3 linked regions of the Homo sapiens genome follow. The protein of the gene in region 2 purifies or fractionates together with the protein of the main gene of each other region. This does not show direct contact. Each region holds a gene or a part of one and is shown on either strand. Other genes may lie near its edges. The genes, in order: UBR3, RBM18 and SYT1.

The links.
Region 1: the proteins of RBM18 (region 2) and UBR3 purify together in Homo sapiens (affinity purification with mass spectrometry; 3 studies listed by BioGRID and IntAct, with this or other methods). This does not show direct contact.
Region 3: the proteins of RBM18 (region 2) and SYT1 purify together in Homo sapiens (affinity purification with mass spectrometry; one large-scale study listed by BioGRID and IntAct). This does not show direct contact.

Annotation. Positions count from the first base shown.
Region 1 is NC_000002.12:169,949,450-169,953,105, reverse strand, and holds part of UBR3 (E3 ubiquitin-protein ligase UBR3), read right to left. Parts: intron 3,502-3,656; coding exon 3,041-3,501; intron 1-3,040. UniProt on the Homo sapiens protein: E3 ubiquitin-protein ligase which is a component of the N-end rule pathway. Does not bind to proteins bearing specific N-terminal residues that are destabilizing according to the N-end rule, leading to their ubiquitination and subsequent degradation.
Region 2 is NC_000009.12:122,251,290-122,254,945, forward strand, and holds part of RBM18 (probable RNA-binding protein 18), read right to left. Parts: intron 3,079-3,656; exon of another isoform or gene 2,985-3,078; intron 685-2,984; coding exon 558-684; intron 1-557.
Region 3 is NC_000012.12:78,871,219-78,874,874, reverse strand, and holds part of SYT1 (synaptotagmin-1), read right to left. Parts: intron 1-3,656. UniProt on the Homo sapiens protein: Calcium sensor that participates in triggering neurotransmitter release at the synapse. May have a regulatory role in the membrane interactions during trafficking of synaptic vesicles at the active zone of the synapse.

The sequences.
Region 1 (3,656 bases), on a different chromosome or scaffold from region 2:
AACTATGTCCTCCAGTATCACATTATTAGTAATAATTACAAAATTCCCTTAATCAAGAAAAACAGATTTTGATTCACTGTTTATCTTCTTTCAAAATAAAAGGATATACTATTATATAACAGAAAGAAGGATCTGACCACTAAGAGAGACCACTAATTAACAAAAATAACAATCTTACCTCATTTTCAACCTTCTAATTTTGTCAGTAGATTTATTACATTCTAGGCTATTACTAATTCAAACTTAATGAATGGTCATCTGAATTATATGTTACTGAATGTCCTTTCTCCCACGGAAACAAATTTTGTGTTAGTTCTTTATAACTCCAATTTAGGAATTCTCCTAAATTCTTAATCTACCATAAGCTTTTGCATATATTAATATAAATTTTTTATAACAAACTTTTTTTTTTGAGATGGAGTCTCATTCTGTCGCCAGGCTGGAGTGCAGCAGCGCGATCTCAGCTCACTGCAACCTCTGTCTCCCAGGTTCAAGCAATTCTCCTGCCTCAGCCTCCCTAGTAGCTGGGACTACAGGCACACGCCACCACGCCCAGCTAATTTTTATGTTTTTAGTAGAGACGAGGTTTCACCATGTTGGCCAGGATGGTCTTGATCTCCTGACCTTGTGATCCACTCACCTCGGCCTCCCAACAAACTTTTAATTACATCAGAGATGTAGTGTAACTATATATGTGACTAAAATTGCTCCTTATACAGGTACCAACGGATGACCTCCTAACTAACAAATCAAATAGGATGGCCAATCTTATTGAACTCCTGTAGCACTTAACAATTTTGATAAGTTTCTTGCTTTCTGAACTTCCTCTTGTGACTTCTCTAATGCCACTCACCCCAGTTTTTCTCTTACTCTGCTCAGCCATCCCTTCGTCAGTCACCTTTGTAGGTACCCCTTCCTCAGTCATTCCCTTTAATGTTTTTCCCTTAAGTTCTACATTCAGTCTTCTCATTTTCTTACTGTAAACCTTCTCCCATATACAAGGATTTACTACTACCTAGCTGCTCAAATCTGTAGCTCTAAGAATTCTCCCTTAAGTTTTAAACCCTATATCTGACTGGACACCTTCACCTGGGTGTCCCTCTTAAACTTAGTAGCGTCCAGAACTGAACAGATCACTTTTACTAATGAGCCTGGGACCCCTCCTACACTCCATTATCTTGGTAAAAGGAACATTATTCAAGTCAGAAATCAGGGCACCATTCAAGACATCTCCCTCATTTCTCACATCAACCTGATGACTGAGTCTAACAACTTGTACCTGCTAAATATCTCATACACATCTCCTCCTCTCTTTATTATCATCACTGTCTTAGTTCAGACCCTTACCACACCTGCCCCACTAGATGACTAAGTAGCTTGCTCTCCCAATTTCCAGTCTTACCCCACTCTAATCTACCCTCATGTAATTACCCTATATATTATTCCTCACTTAAAATCCTTCCACAGTTTCCCTGTAACCATTTATACCCTGTGCGAGTTAACGATACATGGTTACCTTCTTAGCCTTATGTCCTACTACTCCCATTAACACCCTGTGTACCTAAGATAGTATCTGTTACACTATGTTAACACTACTAACAAACTATCTGTTTACCAGTCTGTCTCTCCATTATAGTATCAATTCCTCGAGGTCAGGAAGTCCAACACCAGACACAGATATGTCTAGAAAACTGCTTGACTGACACCCAATGAATGAGAAACGGATCAATCAAGTAAGATCCATCTTAGGCTTGCTTCCACTGATCATTTAACCCATAACTGCCTATATTTAATTTTAAAAGTAACTAAGAAGATGAAATTATCCAGAAAATACCTCTAAAGTACACTTCAAACTGCTAAATAATGTATTAGTCATACTGCTCACAACAGTAGTCCAGATAACTCTGTTGACAATGATTTTTACCTATATAAAACAGATTGAGATGATAAAGGTCCTAGGTTCTTAAATTAAGATAATATTGATGTGATCTCTTTGGACCCTCCCTAACGGGAAATGTGTACCCTTCCCCTATAATTGTTGCTTTGGTAGACAAATTTGTCTTAAATAATAAAGAAATTAAAACAATGAATATTATTTATAACCTCAGAGAAGTGAGCAATGACTATCTTGAATTTGATCTGAAATCTTTTTTTTAAATGTCCTGGGTCTTTTAGCCTGTGTACACTCATTAGAAGGCATGCTCTTTTTTTTTTTCTTTAATAAACACTGAACCCTTTCCAAGAGTTTGACAATTATGCAGAGTTTCAATCTCTCAAGATTCACCTTGTCATGTTTATGACAGCAGGGTCAGCAATGTTGACAAGGCTCTTGGGAAACAATTTGTGACAATGCACAGTAACACAACTCTTCTGGCAAACAATGTACCACTAAAAAAAAGAACCAAACCATGCTCATAGTCCTTGACCCACAAACCCCACATAACATAGTATATATCTTGAGATTTTAAAAAAATCCCATTTTTTTTTCAAGAAAGTCAAAAGATGAAAAAAAAGTTTATAAATATAATTTAACAACAAATTATAAGCAACCTAAAGATCCAAAAGCTAGAAGCATAAGTTAGTCAGAATGTGTTTTAAAACATCACTTTTTAAAAATCAGCAATCATATATTAATAAAGATTAGAAAAGACCAAAAGAAACTAAAGCAGTTGGATTTTTATTTTGAGAAATATTTTAAATATTTTTAATATTCTCATTTAAAGCTGAACAGTTCAACTTTAACAGTAAGAGAATTATTAGATCCCTACAGCAATAAAAGCAGTAGCAATTTTTCCAAAGAGACACACAGGTTTAAGGTAGTAATTTTACATTGGGGTCAGAAAGTCTCACCTGTCCATCAATAAACTCAATACATCACATGTACAAGCACTGACTATGCTCCATTCCATTTATGTTACAAACTAATCAGCTATGACTGTTCCTGTTAAACATCCAGGTGATTATCCTCAAATGACCAAAAGGAAGAAAATATCAAATTTTCAACTATACACACGTTTAAAACATTAAAAATAAAAATTACCTTTCTTCTTTGTCCAATGTTTTCTTCTCTGCTGCAGTGACTTTTTTAGGTGGTACAGGAGGGGTCACTTTTCTACATATCTCTTCAATGATGCGTTTGTTCATTCTACTTTGCGATGCAGCTTTTAGTAAAATTCTTTCCACGGCAGTTATACCATCTCCATGACTGTATTTAGGAATTTCTGGTTGGATTAAAATTTCTATGTCATCAAGCCAAGGAGGATAGTAGGAGTTTTGTTTTCCTGAGAGTTTGTGGTGAAGTTTAATTAGCAAAGACAATATGCTTTCTTTAATTTCCAAAATGGCTGTAGTTAACTGTGGAGCTGAACCAGGAGCAGACCATTTACTTGAAGTTTTGGGACGAACCACCTGATTTGCTTCACTGCTACTGCGATTGATGATTTCCTGAAATTTCTTTCTACGTTCTGCTACTAAACTGAAAACTTGAGCTGTACCAGAATTCTACCATTAACAAAGAGAAACAAAGAAAAATCAAGAGAAGTTATTTAGCATCATTTTAAAAACATATTAGTACTATATTTTCTAAAGGGAATGCTCAGTTTCATACAAAGATTTATTCAATAGATTTGCTCTTTAAATAAATTTCTCCCTTGACC
Region 2 (3,656 bases):
CAAATTCAATTTCTTTATCAATGCACTTCCACTTCAAGGACTAAATTTTAATACAAGGAGATCCATGTATATATCATGGTTGAAGGTGAATGCGCTCTTCTACATACATTAAAATTTATATGCATTTGTTCTGAGACCTTGAGAAGAAATAACAAAAGAGTCTTTGTGGGTGTCTCATCACAGATAGGTTTCTGTACCACAGGACAAAACTACTGAAAGAAAAGAAGGCTTTGTCAGTTGGCCAGCCAGTAAAGCAACAAACAAAAGAGAATAGGGAGGGGGATGTACATGTGCTCGATGTGGGCATCCCAGTGCATTTGGTCAAAAATGTAGGTGAGTCAGTTGCCTTAAACTTTGGCCAAGGGACAGTGAATTGTGAAAGCCACTAATTCATTTGTTTATTGAGGATCCCTTATAGGACTCAGTGTAAGGCACACAGATGAATCAGACATGGCTCCTGCCTACAGGGAACTGCTATTCTAGTAGGCAAGAGACATGCACAAATAATTATGACAGAGCTTGATAAATATTATAAAATGGGGAGAAAGCTTAATTACCTGCTTAGTTTCAAAGTTAACAAAACAGTAGCCTCGAGGCTGTCCCTCCAAAGCACCTGACTTGTGGAAGAGGAAGTCAAACTGCTTTACCTTGCCAAACTTCTGGAGGAGCTTGAGGAGGTGGTATCTGTGGAGAAAGAAGAGTCCATGAGTATGCTCTGGGAATTCTGTTGGCCACTCAGCCTGAAGTGTGAGATAAAAGCAGGAGATAATTTACCCCAGGGATGAAATCTCTCGCCCCAGCCCCCTGCCTTCCTCTAAACTGCTATGTTAGTTTATTTGGCAAACAGAGTTGTTTGCCTCTATTTGGTATGGGAACTAGAATTGTCATGGCTATGCATCTGTCCAACACAAAAATACCAAACAAAAAAACCACACCTTACAAACAGCTGTCTGGCCTACAAGCACTATTTGTTTTTCTTTTGGAGAAAAGCTCAAAAATAGTGTTGATTTATTTATTTTTAATTCCTTGGCAATGAAATGGCATTTGTGAATAACTATAACTCCATCAGAAACACACACCCATTCTCCAAAAGACAAAGCCTATCCTATCTCAAAAATAAAGTAACAAACATATATGCATTCATGCAAACAAACAAACAAACAAACAGTCCTGGAAGATCTTCCTATTAGATTTTGTAGTTAATTCTTAGACCCAAATTGCACTTGTGAGAAACTCTGCCATTAATCAAACCACAGCTAGTGATACTTCCACAGCACTTGAGAGTTTCAATGACTGATGTGACTGAACATGAGGACAATGTGGAACAACTATGTGACTGAGGCCGGTTTCACAAAGGGCAGGGGAACCTGGCCAGTCCTATAAATCACCCAGCTATGGGTAACTAACCAACCTCAGTTGCCTTAAAACAGTTTATACTCTAGGGTACGGTCAAGTAAAGAATACAGATGGTCAAGGGAGAAATTTATTCCTGGCAGGATGTTCACTCCAAGCTATTGCTTACCACTACTCTGCCCTTCATCCTCTATTAAATTTCTTACTCCAAAACTTACTTGGTTTCTACAGAGCTTTTAAGTTATTCAAACAGATGTGGCCTTAACAGGTTGCTGCGGCCAATCTCAATTCCGACTTCCTGTCATCTGATGTGGGGGTGAGACAAACCAACAGCTCTCCCGTTTCCTTTCCCTTTGGCCTTCCTCCTGGCATCCTCCGTGCTATTCAAATGGAGTCAAGGCTTTCTCTAAACAATGCTGTCCCTGTGATACTAAAAAGGTATCAGCCCACATGCTAAATCTGTTATTACTGGGAATTCTACCCCACAGGGAGTCAGTAAAGTTGTCGTTATAGCCACATTTATATTCACATTGTTTTCTAAGAGAAACTCATCAAAATTTTATTCTTGAGCAAGAATTTCCTTTGGGAGGCAGAAAGATATGAAATGGACCATACACTATACTAAATTTGATACTAATGCACATCAACAAGCAAGTCCAATATCCTGGATCAAGTGTCTGACACAGTGGAACAAGAAAGACATAATACAGGTTTAGTACTGGGACAAATGCAAGGATCCCAAGGCATATTGTGGATATTAATCTGGTCTATTTTGAAAGGTAAAACCACCATGATCCCCTACTTTCTAACTTCCCAACTCCCATCAGGACACCTCAACCACTAGAGAGAATGTAGGAAGTGACTTCAGGGGAAACGAAGACACCTTAAGTGCAAATGTGTGGTTTTACTTGACTTTTTGAACAGGCTTACAGCAAGGGTGAGTCTCTCACACACAAAGATGGGCGAGAAGAGTCTCCCCCAGGGTCTTTAATTCACAGCTGTATCTTCAAATTACTAAGCCTATTCAAATCTTAACACCGTGCCAGTTGCCACAGAATGGGGAGTCAAACCTATTCTTAAAAAAAAAAAAAAAAAAATCTAGGCCAGGCGCAGTGGCTCACGCCTGTAATCTCAGCACTTTGGGAGGCCGAGGTGGGTGGATTGCCTGAGGTCAGGACTTCGAGACCAGCCTGACTAACATGGTGAAACCCTGTCTCTACTAAAAATACAAAAAAATTAGCCAAGCATGGTGGCGCATGCCCGTAGTCCCAGCTACTCAGGAGGCTGAGGCAAGAGAATCACTTGAATCCGGGAGGCAGAGGTTGCAGTGAACCGAGATCGCACCACTGCACTCCAGCCTGGGCGACAGAGCAAGATTCCGTCTCAAAAAAAAAAAAGAAAAAAAACCCACAAAAACACACACACACAAAAAAAACAAAAAAGACAATCTAAGGCTACTGTGGGCTGGTCATCTTTTCATTAGCTCCATTCTGCTTAGAAGCAGGAAGGTAACACGATTGGCATTTCCTAAGAAATGAATTTTAATTTACTCAGAAAAAAAAAAACACACACACCAACAAAAGATTACTCTTTGTAAAGCTAACAAACACATTCTGCCCAAGAAGTGTGACCTTAAGATTCCAGGAACATCTGCTTAGGTTTGTGTCTTTCAACTTCTCCAGGATTTCTTTTCTTGTTTGATAATTTCTTAAAATTATCGGAACACTGAAACAAAAGGAATGAAATGTTTACTATTTTGCTTCCTGGAGATGGGGACTGCAGGCTCTGATAGTGAAAAAAGCCTGAAGGATCTTGCTTTCACATCTGCAAGCACTTTTATCTGCTGCTGAAGTGCGGGAGAGCACACTACTCAGCAGAGGCTTGCTTCACTTAATGAAATGTGCGCCCTGCAGCCTTCAGGAGCTGGAAAATTAGCACACCAGCCCCACACACATATCTGCAACTTAATCAGTGTTTTCTGTAATTGGTCTTTAAGACAGCTTTTCTGCCTAATGGCACAGAAATAATTAATCTATACACATGTTAAAATAGATACCTACAATGTGTCTAGAGCCAAGCAGGCTTATGGGCTATGCAGATGAATAAAACTAGGTTCCTGCCTTCAAGAACCTCACATTCTAGTTAAGACAGAGAGAGATGTAATCAAACAATTACAAAACAATGGGATGCTTGTACACAGAGGGATGAATACGAGCACACAGAATGAAGACCAATGGTACAAGGAAGGTGGTGGTTAAGGAGAGCTTTGTGAAAGGAGTGATATCTGACTGGGTTGTGTCAGT
Region 3 (3,656 bases), on a different chromosome or scaffold from region 2:
TTAAATAACAATCAACTCAGCCAATATCCTCTTATAGGTAGACTTTTCACACTGGTATAATCATACCAGTCGTTAAATTATTGAGTACTAGTGGTACAGTGGTAGGAAGGAGAATAGGCTTGGTTCTGACCACATGGTGTGAGCTCCCATTTCCACCTATGACTGAAGCCAGAATATTCATGAACTTTATGGTCACATGAGCACCAAAATCCCTTTTCTTGCTTAAGCATTTTGAGTCAGGTGGCATTTTTACAAGTGAAAGAATTTCTGAAAATAAAAAAAGAGAAAGAGGAGCAAAGGTGGTCAAATCTACCATATAGTAACAGGGCACCAGACAATTTGCAAACATTATTGCATTTTCATTCCTGGGGAACTATCTTATTGAAGTTCACCATTCCAGAGTTGGCTATCTGAATCCAGCTCTCTAAGTTTCATACTTTTATCCTATTGCCATCATGCTCATATTGACCTAACCTATAAAGTGGATCAATTTGCCTATCACTATTTAATCTCTTTTGGGTACCTCTACCTCTTTGCCACCATCTATTCTCTTCTTCTGACATTTATGAGTTTATTGATTGTGTGACTACCTATGATTGAGTATTGGCTCTGTAAATAGGTAGCTTGGGTTTAATTCTACATCTTACTACATAATGTGACCCTGGGAAGTTGCTCAGTTATTCTTTTTCCACTACTTTCTCACTTAAAAATTATAAACAAATTAGCACAAATCCCAAGGAGTTATTGAGAATATTAAATGGGATGAAGCATGGAAAGTACATAGAAAAGTGCCTGACATATTGTAAGAAACAATATGAATACCTGTATTCATTCAAATATCTCCCTTAATACCTATCCTATGTTTCATATAATTTTGTATTCTTTCTATAGGCCCTTCCCAACTAAAATTCCTGTTTTCTTAAATCAGATTAGCTACAAACACACTTATATTATTCCACATTGCAATGGTATGGCTATTAGCTATTGCTCGCAAATGTGTTTCTTAACACAAAGAATTGCCAACTGATAGACTTCATATTTGAATTGAATAATAATTGTGGTTTGGATATGTTCACTTAGAGCAGAATGTTTAACCATTCTACCTTGGAATAGAAGATAAAAAGTATCAATAGATTCAACAACTTCCACTAATGTTATGTGAAGGAACAGCAAGAAGGTGTGTATGAATATCAATGAGGAGAATAATAAGAGATAAGTTTGGAGAGTTAGTGATAAAGCTACAACACTTATGATTACAATCACTTCTCATTGCACCCTACTTGGTGGCTTGGAACTATGGAGTTTACAAATAAGAAAACAAATAAGGTGACTTATCTAACATCACAGTGATATAGCAATGACTAAAGGCCAACTTAGCCTAGTGACTCAAGCTTAGTGACTTTTCTTGTAGATTACAAAAATGTCCCTTGAATAATTTTAAAACACAAACTCAATTTATTTTGCAATTAGAGTCACAGAAGAAATAATGGTATATCAAATCTTTCTTATTTTTTCAGTGGGATAAATAAAGACTATGTATCTTATACTCAATAATGATGTTAGATAAGCAAAAGCAAACTAGTTCTTACATAGTAAGAGAATTACAAAACATGCTTTTTCCTGCTTTATTAAGTGCTGAGGCAGTAAGTTCCAACAGACAAAAAATATAAGAGGCTTTCTAAATGTGTAATTGCAGGCAAGTAACAACACTTGAGTCTCCTTCATTGCATCTTTAAGAGAGAGAACCTCTTCATTATCAACATCAAACAAGGCAATAAAATAAATAAACAAATAAAAATACAGTGCTGCACGCCTGTCATGAACACAGTAACTTGTTACCATTGCAATGGCAAAATAGAAAATAAAGAAAAACATGCCAAATAGTACATGCCAGTTTTTTGGACTCTAAAACATTATTCTGTCTCTCTGCAAAAAGTTACGGTTTAAAAATTATCCGCAAGCCCTTTACATGCAAAATTTTAAAAACATTCATATGATGACACATTCCATTTAAGTGTGCCAATTACATAAACAAATTAAAAGGCTGCTCCTTTATTTATCTATACATATATTTTGTGAAGCTAACCTAAAATGTATACAAACTAAGAATTACATTTCTTAGTTGTTGACACAAATTAATTCAGCTGGTGAAGATTACTATGGGTCAAAAGTACTAAACCTTCATTTAGTGATTCTATAGGAAAATATTTAATTAAGATACAAAAAAAGAAAGGAAAGACAAAAGAATGAAGAAAAGAAGGAAGAAGGGCAGAGTAGGAAGAGAAGACATGAGAAAGGAATAAAATGTACAGAAAGGAAGAGAACACAAAGGAATTCCTATATCATTCTTATAACCAGAGAACTGAACAAATCTTTCCTATTCAGGCTGTGAGGTGTAATATGCTTCGATGCATACAGGTCTAAAAGTCCAGAAATCAAGAGAAATAAAACTGTTGCTATGTGTTCAATATATAAATGATGAAACAGATTCTCAAAGGCATAAAAGAACTTGTCTCATCCACTTTTGCCTGAAGGAGTCAGCTCTCTCCTGTCATTAATATTCATTCTGTGTTGTCTAAGAGTGGTTCAGAAAGTATCTAAGATTCTCCAGAAAAAAAACAAGTCGTTGGAAACTTGCATATCAAGTACTTTTTTACAAAACAATTTAAAAGCAGGGCAGTTTTGTCAATTTAAGGGTATGTTGGCTTTGTACTGAAATGTCACTTTTTGAATTATCAGGCTCAGATGTAGCTCAAGGTGAATGCTTGGCTTTTTAAATTTAACATTATAATTTAATAAAACCACTAAAAATAGGTACATTATTTGTAATGTCATATTGTTAACTAAGCTTTTAACAGAAGAATTTCCTGTACACAGACAGATAAAACCCTAGTACTTTCAGGCATAGAATGATCTGGTTTATACATATTTAAATATAAAAACTTGTGGCCTCGGATTCTGAACATTGGTTAAAATAGAAGAGTGATGTTATGCTATTTATAGAAGAGGTCTCGGTGCTCTAGAAATATGCTCTAATGCCCAATAGTTCACTTTATTCAGTCTTCAAATCTGATGAAAATGCTAGGGATTAGGCAGAAAGCCAGCCTTGTAAACTAGGATCTGGCAGACACTCCAAGTCAGAAACAGATTTCAATGCTTTGCTTCCTTGTCTTTTTCCTGAGAAACTGTGTCAACTTTTCTTCCTAATAATCTTGATAACTCAAAACCTGATTGCTAGAGCTCAACTGTCCCTTAATGAGTTGTTATAGCACTTGTCCTTGCTTCAAAGGCCAATAAATCATTTGTCTAAAAATCTTTCTAGAAAAGTTTTTTTTCCCTCAAAAATAAGCAGGTAGGCAGTTTCCGTATTTCATAGGAGCTAAGCAAGGACCATGTCCACTGTTTGTATGGCATAGGATATTGGAGACCAGTAAGTACATCATGAGGGAAAAAGATACTCAGTTAGCTCTTTCTCCTTCTCAAAGAGAGAGCAGACAATTCAAAATTGATATTTTAGTGAGTGTTGCCTGCTGCTGTAATGTTATCTTATTGTTTATACTTGCAGAAACTCTCACATACAATTGTGTCTGAAAAATACATTATTAATAATCTATCCTAAAAGCAAGCTCGTGTGTGATGTTTCATAATATCCAGAG